Homo sapiens: one gene and its partners. The protein of the gene in region 2 interacts with the protein of the main gene of each other region in a biochemical or structural test. Each region holds a gene or a part of one and is shown on either strand. Other genes may lie near its edges.

Evidence for each region. The genes of interacting proteins can lie anywhere in the genome.
Region 1: of the proteins of RAPGEF5 (region 2) and RAP1A, one has a biochemical effect on the other in vitro, tested with the Homo sapiens proteins (2 studies listed by BioGRID).
Region 3: the proteins of RAPGEF5 (region 2) and MRAS form a complex in vitro, tested with the Homo sapiens proteins (one study listed by BioGRID).

What each region holds. Positions count from the first base shown.
Region 1 is NC_000001.11:111,713,789-111,717,191, forward strand, and holds the end of RAP1A (ras-related protein Rap-1A precursor), read left to right. Parts: 3' UTR 1-2,903; downstream 2,904-3,403. UniProt on the Homo sapiens protein: Counteracts the mitogenic function of Ras, at least partly because it can interact with Ras GAPs and RAF in a competitive manner. Together with ITGB1BP1, regulates KRIT1 localization to microtubules and membranes.
Region 2 is NC_000007.14:22,354,075-22,361,669, forward strand, and holds the start of RAPGEF5 (rap guanine nucleotide exchange factor 5), read right to left. Parts: upstream 3,081-7,595; 5' UTR 2,987-3,080; coding exon 2,756-2,986; intron 1-2,755. UniProt on the Homo sapiens protein: Guanine nucleotide exchange factor (GEF) for RAP1A, RAP2A and MRAS/M-Ras-GTP. Its association with MRAS inhibits Rap1 activation.
Region 3 is NC_000003.12:138,344,218-138,351,578, reverse strand, and holds the start of MRAS (ras-related protein M-Ras isoform 1 precursor), read right to left. Parts: upstream 3,001-7,361; 5' UTR 2,812-3,000; exon of another isoform or gene 2,547-2,811; intron 2,368-2,546; exon of another isoform or gene 2,200-2,367; intron 1,896-2,199; exon of another isoform or gene 1-1,895. UniProt on the Homo sapiens protein: Signal transducer in the Ras-MAPK signaling pathway that regulates cell proliferation and survival. Core component of the SHOC2-MRAS-PP1c (SMP) holophosphatase complex that regulates the MAPK pathway activation.

The sequences.
Region 1 (3,403 bases), on a different chromosome or scaffold from region 2:
GGGTGATACTACTTATGTAGTCTCTATAAAGAGAGGTAGAACAAAAAGCTTGTTAGCCAATTAAGTTCTGGAAAAGGAAAGAAACAAGCTTAGAAAACCCTGTGCCTTGTCCTCAAATATTAAGGAGGAGACAGACCAGTCCTAGAAAGTCTAAGTCATTGCTCAGGGATCTCTAGATACTGTCTCTTTGCAACTAGGTATGAAGAAGTGTTCATGCCTTGCTGAGATTTTCCAGGCATGTGGTCAGCCTGTCACTTACTAAACTGAAATTTTAAAATCAGGTTTCAAATGTTAAGCTTTGACCAACCTGAGAAAATGTTAAAGTATTGTTTTTAAAAAAATGGAAATTTTTTTTGTTTGTGTTTTTGTTTTAGTTTCGAATAAACTTAGTTACCTTACACTTCCCTTCTACTTATCCAATTATGCATATGTCTGGGATTGAGGGGCCAAAACTATAGCGAACTTGAATGAAGTATTAGGGCCAGTTGTCAGGTCAGGGTGGCATCTTTTATTTTAAGGTCCTCTAAAGTCATTCTGCTTTAAAACACCCCTCAAACATACCTTTAAACTTAAGATCATAGACAGACATCTCATCAACCAGTAAAACTTTCTAAATACTACCTTGTCACATCTATTGTGTAGTTATTTAACAGATTAAATAGAAGTCATTTAATAAGACTCCAAGTCTCAGTCTGCTTGACTAGTAGCATAAACTCAGTCTATTCTATTTTAGAATGTGGTGGAGAAAGATGATAGTTATTAGATTCCTTTGTCACATCTTATACAGTCCACTTGGGTTAAAGGTGGAACTGTCAAGAAAAACGCCTTTCTGGCACACAGTGATATGCAGAGCAGGACCAGCTGAAGTCAGATGTGCAAGGAAATCTGTGGTTGCTGAGCAGGATGAAAAGTATCCTGTTAGAAAGTGAGATAGGTGTGTTTTTATATTGTCCTAATGTGAACTCCTTAGTCTTGGTTCCAAAGGGAAGGGTACCTGAAAATAAATGTATTTTTATAGCTGAAAAATCAAGAGTTTCTAGGATATTGTGTGAATGTCAAATGATAAATATCTAGAAACTGATTTCATATTAGTATGTGTGGCTATTTAAAGTATAATGACTTTGGTTTGGTTATATGAGTGACACAGAATTTAAGGAGGCTTCATGCCATAGTTCATAGTTTGCTCTAATGGCTTGGTGGTATCCCTGAACAGTCTACTTTTAGAAATTAACAGTAAATACACAATCCAGCTGTAATCTTACCCTCCACCAGGGGGAGCTTCAACATCGGTTAATACTTTTTTTTTTTTTGAGATGGAGTCTCGCCCTGTCGCCCAGGCTAGAGTGCAATGGCTCAGTCTCCGCTCACTGCAACCTCTGCCTCCCGGGTTCAAACAGTTGTGCCTCAGTCTTCCAAGTAGCTGGGATTACAGGCACCCGCCACCACGCCCAGCTAATTTTTGTATTTTTAGTAGAGACGGGGTTTCATCATGTTGGCGAGGCTGGTCTTGAACTCCTGACTTCGTGATCCGCCCCCCCCTCAGCCTCCCAAAGTGCTGGGATTACAGGCGTGAGCCACCGCGCCTGGCCCGGTTAATACTTTCATAAGCATTGAAGTAACTATTTAAGTCCTAGTACATAAACACTGTGTGGTTCACAAAAAGGCATAGAGACATTCTCTCAAGAGTTTACAATCTAATTGGGCAGGGAAGATACTACAGTTCATCAAAGATATGAATAACACCCTAGTTTTCTGAACTGCAGCTGCATGGGTAATTATCTTAAGAACTTTTGGCAAAATATGGATGTTGGTGTGTTACTCTCTTCTCCCTACAACTCTGAACTAATCTGTGTTTGGCACCTTGATTTGCCATCATAAATGGCCACCATTTACTCCTCACTGAAATATTCTTCTTCTTTGAGGTTATAATGTACTTGGAAAAGTTAATACTTATAGAAAATAATGATCTTTATTACCAACTTTATTAAAACAGGCTTGGAACATTTTTCTCCATAGAAGAATAGTAATAAGACATTCTACATTTCCTGGACATGGCCAGTTTAAAATATTTTGCCCCATTACCCTTGTAGATACACATGTATTTGTCAGTTTATGTGCCTCAGTTTTGTCTTAGGCACTGAGGGACAGAAAGAGAAATAAGGAATACCTTGGTATTTTCCTTTGCAAGCAATCACAGCAGAATGCTAGAAAACATAAAATATACTCTTATAAATTGTATGTGTGTTGAAACCAAAGTGTGAAGAAATTGTCAGGTATTTGGAGGAGGAAAATAATTTGTAAAATAACCTTTTTAAGAATTTGGATTTTGTACTTATTTAAGGTGCTAAATATGTGTTAAAATATCCCCTCTTGAATCAGCTCCAGGCTTAAAAGGGCAGAGTGGTTTGGATTCTTGTCCAGGGTCTGGAAAGAGCTCATCTTGCCGAGAGGGAAATAAATGTGAGCTTTGAGGCGGTCTAACTACCCAGCTTTTAGTATTTATGTTCCCCAAAATGTAAAAACTGTAAGTTATTCTTGAAAATGTAGTCCAGACATTTCTTTGATCCTGGATTTTACTGCAGTTTCATCATGGGTTTGTTGAATGTGCAGTCCATTTATTGCCCTGTCTTGCTTAAATATTCTTGTTGAGAACAGCTGGAGGCTTTGACTGGGTTCCTAGTTCTGTTTTCTGGGAAGGCAACGTGGATTCTGTTTTGTAGACATTAATGAGCTTTAAATGGGAATTGGGGATGATGTATGTTCGTTGGGCATGCTGAGAAGCGGCCTCCTGTGGTTCTGGGCCCAAGGTGTGACATACATTTCCCACTAATTGCTTCTCTCAAGAAGCAAGAGATTGGCTGTTCCTCTTGAGGAAAAACCTTAATAAACCTTCCCATTTTAAACAGTGGTGTGACTCTTATTTTGAGCTGTTGTTTTCAATGAATTTTTTTAAAGCTTACCATGTTCAAATTTTTGTGCTGAATGTTGTAGGACATGCAAATCAGAACAGGACATGATCCTTAGGGGCCTACCAACAAATATTCATTGCACTTCTACTGTATGGCAAGTGCTGATCTGCATGCCGCGGAAACAACAGTGAACAGTACAGACTCAGATCCCTTTCCTCGTGGAGTTTTTATCTTTAGAAAATGGTAAAAGATAACTTGTGTAATGATGAGTGCTTTGAAGAAGAATTAAGCCGTGTAAAGGGGCAAGAGTACTGGGCAGAGGTGGTGGTAGTGGGTTAATATCTCATTGAAGTTGATACTCGAGTAAGTGTTCAAAGTGAGCAGCCCATGCAACTGCCTGGGGGAAAGGAGGATTTTCCATTCCTTGGGGAAAGGGTCTGTGCCAATGCCATGAGGTGGACATGTGCCTGGTGTGTTGAAGACTGGCAAGGAGG
Region 2 (7,595 bases):
AAAAACAAAACAAAACAACAACAACAAAAAAAGCCTATAATGCACCTGGGTTGAGCAACACAACCCACAAAGAACTTTGTTAATGTCAGTTGATGTCAGATTGTCCAGGTTTGTGGGAGCCCAGGGCAGCATGGATAAGGACCACACATATTCCTAAATCAGATCTTGGTCAATATAGGAGATGAAAACTCAACTAACTCATGTAATGCACAAAGCTGTGTCTTTACTAGTGGTAATGGATTTCTGTTAACTTATCCCTGAAGTCACGCAGCTCCAGTCTGGAGGTATGGCCCATGAGACACAAAGCTGAAGGTCTACAAAAAGATCCAAGCCATGATTTGTTTGCATTAGCATCACTGCCCAATCCAAGGTGGTTAACCAGACAATCCCAGATGCTAACAAGTCACCAACCAACCAGTCTGATACATATTCTACTTGTATCTCTCTTTCTTTCAAACCCCCTGTGTTTTGGACTGTTAAGTGTATGCCCCCTACAAAATTCTTATGTTGAAGCCCTAACCCCAAACATGACATTATTTGGAGATGAGGCCTTTGATAATTATTTAGGGTTAGACTAGGTCATGATGGTGGGGCCCTCATGATGGGATTAGTGGCCTTATGAGAAGAGGGAGCCCTCTCTTCCTCTGCGTTTACCAAGGGAAGGCCATGAGAGGATATACGAGAAAGTGGTCATCTGCAGGCCAGGAAGAGAGCCCTCACCAGAAACCTAATCAGCCTACACATTGATCTCAGGCTTCCCAGCATCCTGAGCTGTGAGAAAATAAATTCCTGTTGTTTAAACCACCCAGTCTACGGTATTTTGTTATGACAGCCTGAGCTGCCTAAGACAAGTTCATATTTCACTTGTTTTTCTCCTTCTTTCAACCCCCTTCCTACTCCTTTGATGGGGAAGATTCCAAAATCACAAAGGTAGTTCCAAGGCAGAAGAAAGGGGAAATAAACAGTCAAATAAATAGTCAAAAAGTATGGGTTTCCAACACTGGAAAAACTGACAATCAAACTTCCTTCAATAAAAACTGGCTATGCAGTTACGAAATGTGTTTGGAAAGTCCCAAAAAGAAATAATACAGTATTAGAATCAAAGAGGGTTAATAAAGCATACATTATCTGAGGTAACCACATTCAGAGTAATTAAAAAATAAAACTAAATAGGTATATTGACAAGGTATACGACACCCTCCCAGGCAGCAAGAAACATGAGTATGAACGCAAATAAATACTATAGATCTATTTATACAGAAACCCTCAGCAATTCTTGTCGCAGACTGCCTGGCAGCCCTCATGTCTTCAGTATTCTGTGCCATGAAAAAGTAACCGTCAAGGATAATAGAAACATAATTTGACCTACTTTTCCCTGGATTCCTGCAAAGTCTATAACTCCAGTTCTTGTTTATTCCGACACCACATCTTGGGGACACATTTCCTCACTTACTTTGCAGGCAATCCTAAATGCCACACATGTTAAGGTCACTTGTGGGCAATTCCTAAACTCTCTGGGTCACCGACTTTAAGAATGTCCCATCACACACAGAGAATCCTCAGAACATCTTCTGAGATGGACCTGGGATGGACCATTTTCCACCTGAGATGGAAAATGCCTAGGAAAAGAGAGATGCAGCCTCGAGAAGCTGAAGACCGACATCAGTTCAGACCCTTCCCTACCCAAAGGAGGGCGCATGAAAACAAGTGGTTATCCCTCACTCTCAAGTTTACACAAACCCATCTCTGAAAGAGCTAGAAGTCTCCCAGCAAGGTCTTGTTTTAAGTCAGACAAGACTGCATTTTAAAAATTACAGCCAAACGGGAAAGAAAAACCACATTGATGCAGCTTCTCATTAAAGACCACTTAATAATAAATTTTTAAAAGATGAGTAGAACCCACCAAAGGTGCCGCCAAACCCTGGTGAGCAGGGAAATCTGAGTAAGTCAGCTCTGTGTCCTGAGGCCCTGGCGGGGCCTCCTAGGTGGCTTCTTAAAGATCCCAGGAGACAATCAGCAGACCTTCCTGCTTCTCTTAAAAATACAAAACATGCCTGACCTGCTCAGGTCATTAGATGCACTTAGAACTCAATGAGGGACACTCCTTCACCAGGAAATCGTATCTGAACACACCATCAGGAAGTCAATATTGAAGGTTCTTGGGGGCGTGCACCCTCCTGCTCAAGAGGGTGTCCAGGAGTATTAAGTGCTGGAGACACCGGAACCCAGGAACTGGAAGCTCACCCAAGAGCTTCCGACTCCTGGGTCTGCCCCTCGGCGGTGGAGACCACCAAAACCAGTCTCGATGCCCAGAGCTTGCAACAGCACCTCCAAAACAAGCACACACGTCGCATGCGTCCTGCAAACAGGGATGCCGCTCGTGGGGCCTGAAGCTTGCGGTTGGGACAGGGCTGGCTGGCTGTTGGACGCTGGACACCTGCAGCTTCCCCTCCGAGAAGAGGCAAACAGCTCGTCTTCAGCCGATGCCCGGTCCCGCAGCCTGAATCTGGGGGCCCTGGGGTTAAGTCAGGTGCAGCCTGGTGGGGGGGAGGTGTGGGGGCGGGGGAAGCCGTCGCTCAGGGGGTGGCACCTCAAAACCCGCCGTCCCGGGCCCCTCTTCAGCCGAGTCCGGCAGAAGGGCGTCCCTTCCGCCACCTCCCCAACTTCCAGACGCCCCCCTCAGCGGCCCGGGGGGTGGGCGCGGGCTCCACGTGCGCGCCGCCCGTGCCCACTCGGACAGGGCCGGGCCACTCACCCGGCCCCCAGCGGCGCTCCGCTTCCTCCGCAGCGTGAGCCCGCTCCGCAGCAGCGCGGGCAGGTCCCTCAGCCGCGGCCGCAGCGACGCCGGCGGCTGCTCGCGCTCGGGCTCCCGGGCGCTGGGGCTGCGGCGCAGGGGGCCGTCTGCCGCCACCACCGCCGCCGCGGCGGCCAGGGCCGGGCTCTCGCACGGCGGCTGCATCTTGACGGAGCCCACGGCCATCCTCATGCCCTGACGGCGCTGCGGCGCCGGGGGCTCCTCTCCACCGCGCTCGCCTCCGCGCGCCGTCCGCGCCTTCGCCAGGAAGCGAGAGGGCGCGACTGCGGCTCGGGCGCGGGGCGCGCTGCCAGCCGCTGCCCATTGGCGCGCGCCGCGGCCCCCGCGAGGCTCAGCCCCGCGCGCCTCCCCTCCCCTCCTCTCTCCTCCCCTCCCCGCCCAGGTGCGCGGGCCCCGCCCCGCCCCGCCCTTTCGCCTGCGAAAGCTGCCTGGGACCTGTCCCCCTCGGATCTCCCACTCGGGACCCGGGAGGAAGAGGGCACCTTGGGCACCGGCTCATCCACAGGTGCAGAATTCCCAGAATCTCCGGCAAACCCGCTCTTCTGTCCTGTCCCTGTCCCCCTACCCCTTAGGCTGAAAAGTCCTGCTTCACTTCTTCGAATAGCCAGGGGTTGACTTGGACTTCAACCAAGTGTGCTGGAGAGTCGTCCGCCCTCCCGCGCGTTTTGCACAGCCTGGCCCCTCATCGTAATCTTTACTCCTGGGAACTGTTTTGGCCAAGGAACTTCAAAATAGACACGCTACAAGGCAAACACCATGAGGCAAAATTGCTTTGCGCCGACCCTTCTTGGCACACGCATCCTTAAAGGACGAAGGGAGAAAACTTTTGTTGGTTATGATAGGTGTTGAGCAGAGTAGCTGCAAGTCTGGTGACCTGAAGGTGAATCTCTGTTAGCATGTCAGAACCTGACCTTCCCTGAAAGCCCGCTGCTGTGATGAATGTGCTTGGTGAACTGTAAAGGCCTGCCGTGGTGTGAATCATTGTTTACACCCTTCCAGGAGGCAGGAATTCTGGATCATTGAGAGTGAAACTATTCCAGCAGTGCCTTAAACGCCAGGGAGTGTGAATGTTCACATCTCAGCTCAATCTGTCTTCAACAAGGGCCAGCCAGGGTGTTGACTTCTCATCAGTGGGGCGCTGGGATCCCCATCTTTGTCTAAGACTTACAAAAGTTGAATAAGCTTATTCACATTTTTAAAAAATGACAAGAATCGTAGGAGGTCAGGGTCCAGAGTTGGTTTACCATTGTGCCCTCAGCCACTCACATGGTAGGTGCTTGGCAAATATGTATAAAAACATGCCATGTAACAAAAAAGGAGGAACGAACTGTGACCTCTGCCCTTAAGGAAGGTAAGACTTAACCTAGGAGTAGACAAACATCCAGAAAAACAAAGATATTGCACTTGTACTCTTGCTAATTGCCAAGTAAGTGTAGGTAAGACCACTTCAGGCCACAGGAGAGAGAAATGCTTCTGGCCTGGGATGGGCAAAGCTAAATCCACGAAAGGAAGGAAGTTTAAACTGCACCTTAAGGGTGAGTGGGGAAGATTCAACCAGGCAGAAGGAGGGTAGGTGTCCTTCAAGTAAGGAAGAAAGACATGAGGCCGGGCGCGGTGGCTCACGCCTGTAATCCCAGCACGTTGGGAGGCTGAGGCGGGCGGATCACGAGGTCAGGAAATCGAGACCATCCTGGCTAACAAGGTGAAACCCCGTCTCTACTAAAAATACAAAAATTAGCCGGTCGTGGTGGTGGGCGCCTGTAGTTCCAGCTACTCGGGAGGCTGAGGCAGGAGAATGGCGTGAACCCGGCAGGCGGAGCTTGCAGTGAGCCAAGATTGCGCCACTGCGCGACAGAGTGAGACTCCGTCTCAAAAAAGAAAAAAAAAAAGAGAGAAAGACATGAGAAAAACACAAAGGTGGTATCACACAGAACTCACTGGGCACTGAAAATATGTCATGCTAGTGAAGGGAAAGATGACATAATGAAGAAGTAAGAGAAGATACCAGAATGGATGCTAGTAACACACTGCAGAAGGCCTTAAACCCTGTCACCTTAAGCTGTGTGTGTTAACTGGAAAGGACTTTATAATAGGACTCCATAGTCCATTACAGTTTCCAAATACCTATCACATGCATTTATCCAAGGCTGAAATTGCATTTGTATGTTACCATGTCAGACTCTATCCGTTTTTACAGTGTTAAGATATTGCAGCTCCAGTTGGTAATTGGTCGTTGTCTTGAGCCCCAGAGTGCCACTCACCCCCATACCTCCAACTTCCCCATGACATACAACTAAAGGGTGAACACCTGGCCCACTAGAAGCCCTCCAGGACACTCAGATTAGTGGGTGCTTGCGCCCCATCACCCCAATGACAACATTGAATCATACCATGAACTTACTCTACTCCAAAGTAGAACACGTGTTCCGTCTCCTGGTCCAGGTTCCTGGTCTTCAAACCCATTCACACAGTTGCTCAATGCAAGGCCAGCATTCCTTAGATTCTATGGGATAGACCAAGCGTCTAAAGTTCAAGAAGGGCCTTTGGAAAATTGGTTTAGGTTAAGGTGATAAATGACAAATGCCATTTAGCTTCAGGATAAAAATAGGCAAACAACAGGGAATAGTAGGATGTGTACACAGAAGAGCCACGTCACTGTTTAACTCAAATCAAGCAACCTTTATACTCGCTGTGCCCTGTCTGGAATGAGAGTCCTCTGCAATGCTGTCCAACAGAACTTTCTACAATGATGCACATTTTCTGTTATCTGTTTTGCAGCTACTAGCCACATGTGACTGCTGAGCACTTGAAACATGGCTAGGGTGACTGAGGAACTGAATTTTTAACTTTGTTTAATTTTAATTCATATAAATTTAGATAGCAGCATATGGCTAGTGGCTACCATGTTGGATAGTGCAGTTCTAGAAATCCACATTTCTCTCAGTCAGTGTCTTCAGTTTTTAAATTCAAATGTCACCATTTCAGTGAGGCCTTCCATGACCATGTGATTTTAAATTGCAGTCTTTCCTATCCATTCCTTTCTTCATCCCCTTCCGAATGCCCCACAGAGCTTACCACCATCCATATTCTATATATTTTATTTATTTTGCCTATTGTCTGCCTCCCCACAACTAAAATGTATATGACATAAGGACAGGGCTTCTTTTCTCTTTTGTTCAGTATCTAGAACACATGAGTTGAATAATTCAATTATTTCATATATAAGAACTAAGTTTTTCAAACAGTTTAATCTGGATTTCTATACAAAATCTGATTTTGCAGTATGAAAGCTTATAAAAATGTAAATCATATAAAAATGGATTAGAATGAATAAGATCTACTGTTGGTAGCACAATAGGGTGACTATAGTTAAAAATAATTTACCGTATATTTTTAAATAACTAAAGGAGTGGAATTGGAATGTTCCTAACACAAAGAAATGATAAATGCTTCAGGTGATGGATAGCCCAATTACCCTGATTTGCTCATTACATATTCTATGCCTGTATCAAAACATCACATGTACCCCATAAATATGTACAGCTATGATTTACCCATAATAATAATAAATTTTTTTTGAGATGGAGTCTCGCTCTGTCACCAGGCTAAAGTGCAGTGGCACGATCTTGGCTTACTGCAACCCTCTGCCTCCTGGGTTCAAGCGATTCTCGTGCCTCAGCCTCCCGAGTAGCTGGGATTACAGGCACGCACCACCACACCCAGCTAATTTTTGTATTTTTAGTAGAGATGGGGTTTCACCATATTGGCCAGGATGGTCTCGATCTCCTGACCTCATGATCCGCCCGCTTTGGCCTCCCAAAGTGCTGGGATTACAGGCGTGAGCCACTGCGCCTGACCAAAAAAATTTCTTTTAATGTAAATCATATTTGTGCCAACCACACAAGTCAACGAGACCACTTGCCAGCCACTTGCAATTTTTCCTACAGGATGGGGTACCAGAGCTGAATTTTACTTAAGAGAATGAGATCATCAAAGTCAAAGTGTGTGTAAAGACCCATGGTAAGAAAACACAAATTTTAAGGCTATTGGCAGGATAGCGAAATTGAAGACCAGGAAGATAGCTCTGACAATGAGCTAGCTACAAAGTGATGAGGGCCTGAATTCATTGCGGCAATGGAAACAGAAATGAGGGGTTAGATGTTAGACAGTACAAAAGAAGGCTCCTTGGGCATAGGAGCAGTAGAAAAATACTTCAGATGGTGTTGTGGAGTGTATTGTCCAAAGATGGACAGTTCAGCATCTCCTATCTTCCAAGCTCTTCTGCAGTGTGATATTGCCACTCCCCCGAAAAGAGATGGAGTTTCTTTCTCCATCTCTTTGAATTTGAGCAGACTTTGTGATACAGGAGTTAAGAAGAAATCACTTAGGCAAATAGTAAGGGTATGGGAGTCCTTGGAAAGACTTTCCTTTATAATGAAAAGCAGTACCAAATCATTTTCTAACAAAGAGCAGCCTGTAAAGTGGAGCTGCAGATATAGACAAGCAAGCTGGGAGCTTGCACAGGTCAATGTCAGCAGGAACTAGGGTCTAAACATATTCAAGATGGCGGCTCCAACTTCCCTTTTCTCCCAGCCATGTGTACAGTGAGGACCAGAAAAGATGGTGCAGGCCAAAGGGAGAATTCATTTGCATAATAAGATTAGCATGGGGCGACCAGTCTTCCCCACTTGCTATGTAAACGTCACACCTGATCGAACCAGTCTGTGAGCCCTAGGTAAATCAGACACTGCCTCCTCAAACCGAACTATAAAATCCGGCA
Region 3 (7,361 bases), on a different chromosome or scaffold from region 2:
GAGGCATGATCTAAGACTTAGGAGGGCTGACAGGGACTCAGAGTCCAGCAAGAAAATTCCTCTTAAAGCTTGAATTCTCTGCTGAGTCCCTAGACAATGGGTACCTGCCAGGTGTCCCAGGTCTCAGGGAACTCCTCCAGCTCCTTTTTTACCTGTCTCCAGATAAAGGTGACTGTACCTTCTATGCCTGCCCAGGGCCTGGCAGGTACAGAGCCTCTGGAACTCAATGCACATCCTCTGGACACTTAAGAACATTCCAGCATTGCACAAGAATGCATTCCCATTCAGTTCACATGAGTATGCTTGTACAAACTACACAATGCTCATGAGCAGGTATGTTTTTCAATTGCTTTCAGGGAGACACACTCTGTTTGGGGGCATTTCATTGGCAGAACAGATTACAATGGTTAAATCTGATGTGAAATATATTATGGAAGCCACATTTCCCTGAGAACTCACTAGATCCAGGAGGCTGGTCAACATGTGATTCTGACTGAGGTTAGGACCAGTCATCCCAGGAGCCTAATTTATCAGAGGCCAATAGTCATTCCTGGTTCCAGGTGATCACTAGAGCTTAGGAACCAAACCAACCCCAAGGGTAACTGACTTGTCACTTTTTTTTTTTTTTTTTTTTTTGAGACAGGGTCTTGCTCTGTCACCCAAGCTGGAGTGCAGTGGCGTGATCATGGCTCACTCCAACCTCTGCCTTCTGGGCTTAAGCAATCCTCCCACCTCAGCCTCCCAAGTAGCTAAGACTACAGGTGCATGCCACCAGGCCCAGCTAATTTTTGTAGAGACGGAGTTTCACCATGTTGCCCTGGCTGGACTTGTCACTTTATAAGTAGCTCAGACGAACTGAGTATGAAATACCAGTGGCTAGAGCTAATAATAACATAAAAGTTAAACCTGTCATAAAGTGTCTTATGTAGGTGAAAACAGAGGTGGAAATTAGCAACTGTCTTATGGAGGAGCGAAGCTGACAACGCTGGAGACAATCGCTTGCTTCACCAAAGGGCCTTGACTACCGCCTACCCCAGTCCCGCCCCCAGCTTTAGGAAATGCCGAGGTCACATCTAGGGGGTCAGTTTCCACCAGAGCACGAGGCTTGCCCAACACCTCCCTCCCCAGAGGCTGGCAGACCTCAAAAACCCCAGAGCATGAAAGCCCCATGCCTCCCACCCCGGCAGAAAAAGGACAAACTACACCATAAACTACAGAGAGAAGCTAACTGGCTGCTGGGCAGTGTGAACAGACCTAAGGGTGAAAACCATTGCCCGAAACATTTTCAGCCCCACTCAGCAGGGACATGTGATTTACAGGAAATTAGGAGGTTTACAAAATGTTAGCAGCTCAAGTTTCTTCCCCGGGAAAAGAAGCAGGAGAAGCTCTAAGAACCGTATCCGAGAAAGTGCTTTGTTCACTGCTAAGCTTCTGACACGAGTCAGTTATTAATACCCACAGCTCACTGCCTCACACTTCAACCCACCAGTGAATGTCTATAGTGAATAATTATAAAACAATATATTACAAAACTCTAACACAGGCTGCACCAGAGCCTTCCGAAGCCCAGGACAGCCACGTGGCCAAAAGCATGGACTTCAGATATGATCTTGGGCAAGCTGTTGGCTCTTTTTCACCCCAGTTCCTCCATCCTTTACAATAAACAAAATCCTTCTGGAGGTGTCTTGTCAAGAGGTGTCTTGTCAAATGATGAGCAAATCCACTTCAAGTGCCTGGTCTTTGGAAGCCCTGTTGGTTGCTGTTATTACAGTGGAGTTTCAGAGCTCTTAAAGTCATATCTCCATCTTACTTCTGCTGCCAGACAAACCTCTGGAGGCCACGATTCCGAGCCTTGTCAGCCACCCTCTCTGGTCAGGTCCAGGACAGAGTGAGTCCTAGAGGAGCAAGGCCAGGGAGGTTCCACACCATCAGGGGCCATTGGGGAGTAGGGGCAATGGCAGAGCTCTATGATCAAGGCCCCAGTGGCCTTGATGGACTCTGTCCACCTCTCCAGACTCCACTTTGCCCCAGGCCAGAACAGACCTCAGCTCTAGCCAGAGTCTAACTGGGTGTCCAGTGTATACGCTGCGGCCAGCCAGACATTAACTCCTCTAGGCGGCCTTCTCTCACCTCCCACTCTGCAGTAGGGACCCCTAGGGGCTCCCACAACCCCTGGGCTTACCGAATCTCAGCACTTACCACACTGGCTTGTCACTTTGTGCTCTTGTCTTCCCCGCAGGGCAGGACTGGCACCGTGTCTGATGCCTCAGCCAGATCAGTTCAATGCATGAGCCCAGGCCCTAGTTGTGACCACAGCTCCAGCTCCCCAAACCTCCGGGGGCAGTGAAGGGTTGTTTATGAAGCAGGCTGCGTTTTATTATTCAGATGAATTTGTCAACTCCCTGGCGGATCCCTCCCCTCGTTAACGCCATCTTAAGGCGGGGGGGTAAAGAGTCCCCCACCCACCCACCCATCCCCCGCCGCCCCGTCCTGCCGCCCATCTATCCACCGGGTTCTCGCCCAGGCAGCCAAGGAACTGTAATTACCATGAAAGGGTCTCTCTGAGCGGCGCGCAGGCCCTCCCCACTGGGGTCTTGGTCGTGGCCGATTTCACGAACGCACACCGTTACGCGGGAGCCCGCGATGGGGGCAAAACGCCACGCACAGCCGGTCCCAGGGCGCACCCCGCAAGCGGAGAGCGCGGCCGAGCCCGGAGGGCGGCCACACCTCCCGCCCCGGAACAAAGCGACGGCCGGGGCGAGAGGCGGCGCGGCCGGGCCCCCTCCCCTCCAAGGCCGCCCGACCACTCACCGCGCGCTCCAGCCCCGGCTCGGCTACGGCACTCAGGCCGCCCCCTCCTAGCCTGCGCCGGTGAGGAGGCAGCGTCGCGCCCGCCGGGCCCCGCGGCCGCCGGACTGACGGCTCCCCGCCAGCCGGCCACTCCGGTCCGTCCCCGCCCCGGCGCCTCCTTAAAGCGACCGCGCCGCCAGCGTGCGCCCCGAGCGCCTAGCGCGCCGCGCATTCCTTATATTGCCACAGCGCCTGCTAAAAATAGAGCGCCGCTGCGGGCGCGCCAGTGGGGAGCCCGGGCCGGGTGCCTCGACCCTGTCGCCCCCGCGTGCACCCCGGCCCCCAGGACGCGCGCCTACGAAGTCCAGCCCACCCGCGCCGAGTCCCCTGGGCCCGGCAGGGCGCGCTAGAGCGCCAGGGGCTGGGGTCGGCGCCGCAGCCTCTCCCGCGGCCCAGCACTTACCCGGGTCAGATCCGTGGTGCCGGGGAGCTGGCTTTAAGGTGGACGCCGAGTGGGAATTCGACTCGGCCTCTTTAAGAGCCTCTGCGCTCCAACCTTTAAATCTCCGCTCCGGCCGGGCCAACTTCTGAGCCTAGGGACGCCTCCCCAGTCCTAGGCGAACCTCCGCCGCCACCTTAGCTGCATTCCCTTCGAATCCTGAGACGTCTTTCTTCCAGATCATGCCCCAGCGTCTCTCCCCGCAGGCCTTCTGGGTGCACCGTTCCAGGGCCCAAACTTCGTTGGGATGGATGCGACGGGGACAGGCGACACTCGCGCACCATTTCATTGTTTCAGTTCCGCTAACTCCTCTCCAGCGGCGTCATTTTCCCCCCGTTAAAAAAATAAAGATATAATTCAACACCATAAAATTCCACCTTTTGAAGTGTACAATTCAAGCCGGGCGCGGTGGCTCACGCCTGTAATCCTAACACTTTGGGAGGCCGAGGCGGGTGAATCGCCTGAGGTCAGGAGTTCAAGACCAGCCTAGGCAACATGGTGAAACCCCGTCTCTACTAAAAATACAAAAGTCAACCCGGCATGGCGGCACGTGCCTGTGATCTCATCTACTCGGGAGGCTGAGGCAGGAGAATCACGTGAACCCGGGAGGCAGAGGTTGTAGTGAGCCGAGATTGCGCTACTGCACTCTAGCCTGGGCAACAGAGTGAGACGCTGTCTCAAAAAAAAAAAAGTGTACGATTCAGTGGTGTTTAGCATATTCACAAAGTTTTGCAACCATCACCATGAGCTAATTCCAGAACATTTTCACCACTTCCCACTCCCCTCCCCTGCCCCTCACAAAAAGAACTACCCGTTAGCAGTCACTCCTCATTCACCCCTTTCCTCCGCCTCTGGGAACCACTAATCTACTTTCAATCTCTATGGATTTCCCTATTCAGGACATTTTCTATAAACGGAATCATACAACATGTGGCCTTTTGTGACTATGACTAGCTTCTTTCAGTAACCAATGTTTAATGATCTATTCATGTTGTAACATGTAGCAGTACTTCATTCCTTTTCATGACTGAGTAATATTTCACTGTATGTCTATACGTTTTGTTTATCCCTGCATCACTTGATGGATATTTAGTTTTCTGCTTTGGGGCTACTGTGAATAAAGCTGCTATGAATATTCATGTACAAGTCTTTGTATGAACATATGCTTTTCTTTCTCTTGGGTATATACCTAAGAGTGGAATTCCTGGATCATATGTTAACTCCATGTTTAACTTTTGGGGGAACTGCCAAACTGTTTTCCAAAGCAGCTGCACCATTTTACATTCCCACCAACAACATATGAGGGTTCCAATATCTCCACATCTTTGCAAACACTTGTAATTGTGTGTCTTTTTTTATTCTAGTCATCCTATTGGGGGCGAAATGGCATTTCATTGTGGTTTTGATTGTCAGCATCATTTCTGAGGACATTCTTTTTCTGGGTGGACCTCAATGACTTAGAACCAGCTTTACATGTCCAGGGAACCCACTCCCTTCTCAGGTTTGCCCCAGGCCTAAGGGAGCCTCACAGTGCTGCTGGCTCTGCCTGCCATGCTGAGGCTCTTAATCCCATGCAGGCTTCCTTTGGCATCCCAGCCACCCATGCAGCCATTTGGTGGGAGCTGCTGTGCACCCCCTGTGCCTCCACTCCCACCTGCTGCTCCAAAGACCCTGTAGACCCCAAGTGTCCCCCAGGAAGGGGACAGCAGGTTGGGTGCCATCAAGAGTATCTCTCCTTGGCAGTAGGGAGTAAAAGACCTGGTTGGGGAGAAGGCTTGAGGGACAGTAGTTTACCTCGACTGTCTAGGTTTGCCCTGGAACCTGACTCCCTCAACCCCCTCTATTTACCACAGAACTTGGGAAGGCGGGCAGGGATCTGTACATCCTGGTGGCCTGTCAGCCCCTCGTGGGCTCCCCATGTAAGAGATGTCCTCTCTTGGGCCCTGACTGGCACAAGACCCTGACCATGCCCTCAGCTTGAGCTGAGCCAACATCTATGCAAGAGTCAAAGAGATGTCTTTATACTGCTTTTATACACATATCTGTAATAATACCTCTTCTCAGAAATGGAACTTAAACAGCTAATAGTCATACCCAGGTACCTGGGATTCTCCTTTTTTTTTTTTTTTTTTTTTTTTTTTTTTGAGACAGAGTCTCGCTCTGTCACCCAGGCTATAATGCAGTCGCATGATCATAGCATCATAGCTCACTGCAGCCTCGACCTCCCGGACTCAAGACATCTTCTTACCTCAGCATCCTGAGTAGCTGGGACTATAGGTGTGCACCACCATGCCTGGCTACTTCTTGTACTTTTTGTAGAGATGTTCCCGAGGCTGATCTCGAACTCCTGGGACTCAAGCAATCCACCTATCTGGGTCTCCCAAAGTGCTGGGATTACAAGTGTGAGACACTGTGCTTGACCTACCTAAGATTGCCTAATGGTGAGAGTAAATCTTGCAGATTGCGATTGCGGATGGGCTGTTCCATTTGAGCTGCCTCCTCTGCTCTTTGAACCTTGAAATACAAGTTGTGGCTCAGTTGCTGGCAAATGGGGGCTTAGAGAACAGAGCCACTGAGCAGAAAAGCTTCATTCATCCAGTAAACACTGCCAGAGCATCTACTGAGTACCGGGCACTGGGGCAGAGACCTGCCTTCAAGCAAGCTGAGTGCCAACTGAGGAGCAAGTGGTGTGGAACAGAGAAGCACAGGGACTGTGGAAGACCAGAGGAAGGGCACCTAATCCAATATGGCGAGGAGGCAAGTGCCAAGGGAAGGACTTCTGTGAGAGCTGATGACTGAGCCACATCTGGAAGGACAAATAACAATTAGCTAGGGCCGGGTGTGGTGGCTCATGCCTGTAATCCCAGCACTTTGAGAGGCCAAGGCAGGCAGATCACAAGGTCAGGAGTTCAAGACCAACCTGGCCAATATGGTGAAACCCCGTCTCTACTAAAAAAAAAACAAAAATTAGCCAGGTGTGGTGGCGGGTGCCTGTAGTCCCAGCTACTAGAGAGGCTGAGGCAGGAGAATTGCTTGAACCCGGGAGGCGAAAGTTGCAGTGAGCTGAGATCCTGCCACTGCACTCCAGCCTGGGGGACAGAGTGAAACTCCATCTCAAAAAACAAAAATTAGCTAGGCTGAGAAGGGAAGGAGAAAACCTTATATGCTGAAGGATGATTGAGCAGAAGTCTTTCCAAAGTCTCTGGCAGATGTGCCTGGCTGATCAGGTGTGTTTGAGGCATGGCAGAAGGCCAGACACCTAGCCAAAAACCCAGGCAAGGCTCAGGCCCAAATTTAATCCACAGAGGTCCAAGGTCAGACACAGGGCCAGGAGCCAATTTCTGGCTAAAGTCAGAGCCACTGAACTGACCCAGAGCAGGACAAAACAAACATACTTCATCCACTGCAACATGTCCTACACTTGCCTCTCTGCCCTGAGGCTTGCTGAGTGCCATGCCTCAGAGCCAATCCAAACTGGTGCCTAGTTCAGCAGCAAACGTGGGGGCTTGGGACCTTGGGGCTGGAAGTCAACCAGGTCATTGTGGCCCAGCCTTCCTCTAGAACTCCCAGCTTCAGGCCAGACGCGGTGGCTCACATCTGTAATCCCAGCACTTTGGGAGGCCGAGTCAGGTGGATCACCTCAGGTCAGGAGTTTGAGACCAGCCTGACCAACATGGTGAAACCCCACCTCTACTAAAAACACAAAATTAGCCAAACATGGTGGCGCATGCCTGTAATGCCATCTACTTGGGAGGCTGAGGCAGGAGAATCACTTGAACCCAGAAGGTGGAGGTTGCAGTGGGCCGAGATCGCACCATTGCACTCCAGCCTGGGCAACAAGGGTGAAACTCTGTCTCAAAAACAAACAAACAAACAAACAAACAAAAAACCTCCCAACTTCAGTGTATTCCCTAAGGGTAAAAGAAGCCGTGAGTTTCTGAGCACTCACAGCGTGCCTGACACCAGACATAGTGATGGGTCTGACCCTGTGCTGTAGGTCATCTGAGCCCTGTCTTAGATATAAGGAGACTGTGAGCCCAATCCTACACAGCTGGTAGACTAAGAATCAGGC